2 separate regions of the Homo sapiens genome follow, and region 1 is linked to region 2. The links come from fine-mapping of genetic effects on gene expression. Tissue or cell type: monocytes after Pam3CSK4. Region 2 holds a variant in brackets; the other region holds the start of a gene. All regions are shown on one strand. Distances are from middle to middle.

Evidence for each region. PIP is the estimated chance that this variant, and not a neighbour inherited with it, causes the effect.
Region 1: it holds the start of USP38-DT, and the variant in region 2 is fine-mapped to the expression of USP38-DT in monocytes after Pam3CSK4 (Quach 2016, PIP 0.92).

What each region holds. Positions count from the first base shown.
Region 1 is chr4:143,183,578-143,186,244 of GRCh38, reverse strand. It overlaps USP38-DT (USP38 divergent transcript), which reads left to right and starts at 1,384. Exons shown (of 4, transcript NR_185979.1): 1 at 1,384-1,737. It overlaps USP38 (ubiquitin specific peptidase 38), which reads right to left and starts at 1,328. Exons shown (of 10, transcript NM_032557.6): 1 at 113-1,328. The coding sequence starts at 794. RefSeq lists silencers at 937-1,186, 1,407-1,456 and enhancers at 508-1,392, 1,393-2,278.
Region 2 is chr4:143,127,683-143,130,529 of GRCh38, reverse strand. The region is part of intron 1 of USP38-DT (USP38 divergent transcript); the gene reads left to right. Among named protein-coding and RNA genes, the nearest start is that of USP38-DT, 56 kb to the left of the region's middle. The variant T/A (reference allele first, on the strand shown) is at 1,237.

The sequences.
Region 1 (2,667 bases), 56 kb before region 2:
TCTCGCTTAAGAATGTTTTTAGGGCAGGAGGAAAACATGGTGTGAATGTGTGTGTGCAAGAGAGACATATACTGATTTTTTATGAGATATTCTGAAAGATAATGACCCTTACCTGTGGAAGAGATGCTTGCAAAAACTTCTTGCAGGGAAGGCAGTAGTGTGGCAGGCTCGGCCTTCCAGATGTTCTGCAGCAAGTTACTCACTTTTGTCACCTGGGAGACATATTCCCGCAGCTCTCTTTCCTGGGTGGACACGCACTGGAAATGGCCTATCGTTCGAACCAGCTGTTGACAGAACGTGATGGACAATTTCCCCTTGGGGATGCATTGCACAAAGTCGGTCAGAAGGTCGCTCAGTCGGGCACAGAGCTGCGGCTCCGGCCTCTCACACACCATCCGTAACACCTCTACCTGCAGGAGGCTAAAGAGATCCAGCACCGACGGACAGCTCATAATCAGCTTCAGGCCGTTGTGAATGTAGTCCAGGATGGCTACATCCTTCCTGTCCAGAGAGTGGTAGCCCTGATGAAGGAGGCCCAACACGAAGGTCTTGTTGAAGAAGGACTCGAACTCTGGCCGGTGGTATCGTGCGTAGGCCTCCAGCACCTGGTGCCCCACCTGCCGCTGGAAAGGGTCCTGGCCCTCCAGGATGAGCCGGGTCGTCAGGTCAAACATGGCCTCGCACTGCGCCTCGTCTAGCCAGTGCTCCGCCGATTCCACCACCTTCCGCACAATCACCCGCTTGAGGGGCAGGGGATGCGAGGAACTCACAAGGCCCTCCAGGATCTTGTCCATTGTCGCCACGCTGCAAGGCCAGGGCCAGGGGATAAGGAGCGGGTGGCGGCAGCCCCGAGGTGGGGCAGGAGAGCCCCGGGGCGGAGATGAACTTGGAGCGCCGCAGCAGCAGCGCGACGGGCCACGGCCACCGCCGCCTCAGCAGCCACATTTATGGCGCAGGGAGACCCATCCAAGCCGGGGCGGGAGCTAGCGAGCCTGGAGAGCCTAAGAACCGACACCTGCGGCTGGCCTAAGGCGCCAGAGGCCCGTACTCCGCCGCCGCCCCGGGCCCTCGATCCCACTCAGCATCAGCGCCGAGGGGCCTGTCGGGCCCCCCAGCGGCGTCGGCGGGAGCTCAGGGCCCGGGGCTGCTAGCCGGCGGGTGGAGGAAGCACGCCTCCGAGTTCCGGGTCAGGTGTGGGCGTCCAGTCTCCAGCAGGTCGTGAGAAGAAGCCGGTCCTGGGCTGAGTCAGGAGGCGCTGTCACGGAGAGTGCTGGGATCAGCCGGGGAGAAGAGACCGAAGCGACACCCTTTGACCCGGATTTTGAAGTGCCGGCAAACAGGAAGTGAAGGACCTAAGAACCTCCGGAAGGACCGCCCCTCCGCCCCTCTGCCCCTCCGCCCCTCCGCCTGTCCGCCTCTCTCCTTCTCCCTTGTTCCCTCTCTCCCTCCCTGCTCCCCCACCTCCCTCCCGAGTCGTAGACTCCCTTCCCCCCGGCGCTGGGAGTCTCCTTCCCGCCCCGCCGCGCAGGTGCGGCGACGGCCGCGTCACTGGAGAGTGTGTCGAGTCACAGGCGGTCTTCCGCGCGGAGCGTCCCCGGCGGACGCTGCGCAGATGGCTGCGACTGTAGGATTCTTGCCGGCTAGTCTTCGTCGGTTCCGCCTGCGTCAGGTTACTCGTGAAAACTCGAATAAGTGCTATCGATGTGAAATCCGAGGAAAAGAGCATTTGGGGGAAAAGTAAGGAAAACTCAAAACTCGGATTGAGAAGTCTGCCTTGGCTCATTAATCAAGAATTGCGCTTGCGCGCCTAAATGTGACTGCCTTTATCCTGCGATGTCGGTATTGAAGTAAGAGCAATACTGGCGGCGTACCTAGCATTTAGCGACCATCAGTATCAGTAGCAGGCCTCTAGCAAAGAACCAGTTAGTGAGCTTTGTACCATATCGAAAATTATAAGCCGTCCAAAAAAGTGTGAGAGTAAGGAAAATGGCAGATTAGAATCAAAATATTTTTATACCTGTGTCATACAAGGGTACTTTGAAAATAGAAAACCAGGTGGAAATACCACAAAACTTATTGTATATGTTGACACCGAAGATGGTTTACAATAGGGAAGAACAGGTGCAATCATGCTTGTTCTGTTTCATGCCAAATTCCGAAGATTCACAGTAAGAATTTAATCAGAGGTCTTTATATTGGAAAATATTGCCTAACTGTAGCCTGCTTCAGGCTTGGTTAATATAGTTGTGAAACTAGACATTAAGGCCCTGTAATACAGACAAAACTTTAAAGAAATAGGTCATTTAAAATGTCCCGTAGAAAAATGAACAAAATTCTGTTACTTCAGTTTGCTAAATAGTGTTTTGTTTTTTTACCAAGTTACAAACACGATTACACTAATATATTCACACGTCGATTATGGTAGTCTTAAGAAGAGCAGTTTAGAGGAGACAGGAGCTTGAGTAAAAGGGAACTTAAGACCAAGTTGACTCGTAGGAAGATACGGAAGATAAAAGAGAATTGAGGTAATTAATCTATCAGTCATGCTAGAGACAGGAATGATTTTTCCAATAGGAGGTGAAGGTACACAGATGTTTGTCTTTACTGGGAATAATGCCACAGTGGAAGACAAAGGTAATATAGAAAATAAAATATTAAGAAGGAATT
Region 2 (2,847 bases):
TGTGTGGGAATATAAACCACACACATATCTTTGTACTGGCAGTGTGCTCTTGAGTGAGTTATTTAACATTGTTTTCTAATCTGTAACATGGGAAAATGATACCTTATAGTGTTAACATAAGTGTAATTCAAGTGGCCCCCAATAAAGCATTCATATAAAATCACTTAAGCTTTGTTATCTATGATGAGTGATCCAGTACTGTGTCCAGTATTCTAAGAAATTCCCACTGAGCTTTAAATTGTTTTAAAATACTTTTCCTGGACTCTTCAGAGGTGTTTCAGGGGTTCTGTGAACATGCAATTTGAATATCATTTTAAAGTTCAGTTCTTATTTATTGCACACAAATGCACATGTACTATTGTAAGGCTTAAAACACAAGCAGCAGTTCTGTCCTCCATCCTCCCTATCCCCAACCCTCTCCCAACCACTTTCAATTCTTTTTAGCTTGTTTCTTCTGTTATTTCTACTATATTTCTATATACTACCCTTTCTTGCTTTTTAAATTTTAAACTTCCTGTTGACTTCCTAATATGGAAGATGAGGCTACAGCTCTCTTGTCTCCATAGAAATACACATGGCCTTTCCCGCTATGCTTTCCATACACCTGAATCATAATTTTTGGTTCAATGAATAGTAATTGTATACATAGTTTTAAATATGTAAATATTGTTCATAGCTAAGCCATGTTTATATTTCCTTTTGTGTACAATTTTTGTTTTTCATGGAGTTAAAAATTGCTTCATTTTAAAATTTGCTTTGTTTTCTATATTCATTTTACTAATTCATCCCCCCCAAGTTTTCTACAGAATCCTGGAATTCTTCTCAGTGTAGTCAATACATTGATAGTTTGTCGGTTTTAATGAAGACATCCCTCTCAGAGCCTGTGCCGTTCTGCAGTTGGGATTGATGCGTCTCTAGGCCTGCAGGGACTTCCCTTCACCATCATATGGGAATCCTCTGTGACTCTACCCTGTGTGGATTCTTCTGTGCCCTGTTTTTCATGTCTTCCTCTTTCTTAGTTTATTCCCTTAATTTGGTGGAGCACGTTCTCCAGTAGCTACCTAAAAAATGGTGAATTGGAGGTAAATTGTTGAGACCTTGCATGTCATAAAATATCTTTTCTACTCTCATTCTTATATAATAGAGAGATTGGTTTCAGCATTAATGTAGAAAAAAATTTTCCCTTAGTGTTTTGAAGGAATTATTTTTTGTCTTTTCAGTTCAATATGTATAATT[T/A]CCCTCCACAATTTTTTTTCTGAATTAATAATGAACTTAGATTTAGCCACATGCTTTCAAGGAGTTTTGAGTCTATAGGGGAAGATTTGGAATTAAAAAACTAATATTTGATTTTTAACTTATGTCAGGCAATAGTACAATATATTACTGATTTAATTTTTCATGACATTTAATTTTGTAGTAAAGCAACTGGGGCTCAGAAAAGTTAGGCAATTTGCTTGTGATCACTCAGATAAGTAGAAATTTAAACACAAGTATAGTTGACACTAAAGCCCATGTTTTTCCTGTTCTATAAGGCTGCCTTGCAACTGTTTGGTTTAGTCGTGCTTTGGGGCATGAATTTTTGTTTCATATCTGCCTCTTTCTGGCAAATCATGAATTAATATGTATAAAGTGCTTAGAGAAGTATAGTAGGTGCTGTATAATGTTCGATGTGTAATTATTAAAATTGATTTGGCTAGTCCTTTCTTTGGGTTCTGCTCTTCCTCTTTCCCACCTTGTTTGCCTAGTTAACTTCTCAATTGTGAAGTTATCAGGTCCACTTTCACTTCTCCAGTGAAGCCATTCCAACTAGACAAAGCCTCATCCTGCCCTAAACTAGGTAAGTTTCTATCCACGTCTCACATTATAAATGTATGGGACTCAGTACCTTTTTTTCATATCACAGTTGGTACTTACATGTTTTTGTATTTGTTTCAAATTTGTTTTCCCCACTAAAGTCTAATCTCCATGTTTGTTTTCTTCACCTTTATACCCACAGAACCTAGCAAAGACTTGAAATATAGGTATTATGTAAATAATTGTTGAAATTTTGTTGAATAAATGAATACTGAGCACAGGAAAATCTAAATATATGTTTTCTGTCCTACTGCAGTAGTATATTTTACTAGAAAGTTAATTAAAAAACAAACAGCTGCTATCATCTTTTCAGCATTTCTTATGTACTGTAGCTCAGAGAAAACCATTCTCCCTATATGCTTGCCTCAGAGAAGGTGGAGGTTGCAATTCATTAGTGGGTTATGAAGTCAATTTAGTGAATTGTGATCAGCTTTAAAAATGATATAAAAGAGAAGAGAAAGTGTCAGAGTGCATCACATGTAGTAAGAGGTATTATTTCATGAAACATTTGTTTCAGATTATATTATATAAAATATATATGATTATGTAAAGAGGACCACATTATGAAGACTATTTTTTATTGTGGATATGGTCATAAAGTTTTGCCAAGCCAGTATTTCTAGAGCAGGGTTTGGCAAACCTTTTCTGTAAAGAACAACATAGTAAATATATTCCATTTTGTGGGCCATATGGTCTTTGTCACAAATGTTCAGCTCTGCCATTATAGTATGAAAGCAGCCATAGACAATAAGTAAACAAATGGACATGGTTATTTTCCCATACAACCATACAAAAACAGAAGGCTGGGAAGATTTGACCCAAAGGCTATATTTGCAGACCCCTTCCCTAGGGGGACAGGTTGGCAGGGAAGCTTTTATCCCTCTCCCTATTCTGTTTGTTGGAGAAGATAATGTAATTAATTTGGGATAATCTGATTAATCTGACAGTTCTTGCTTAGTGGATGAGAAAATAGGGAAATAGGCCACTCCCTAA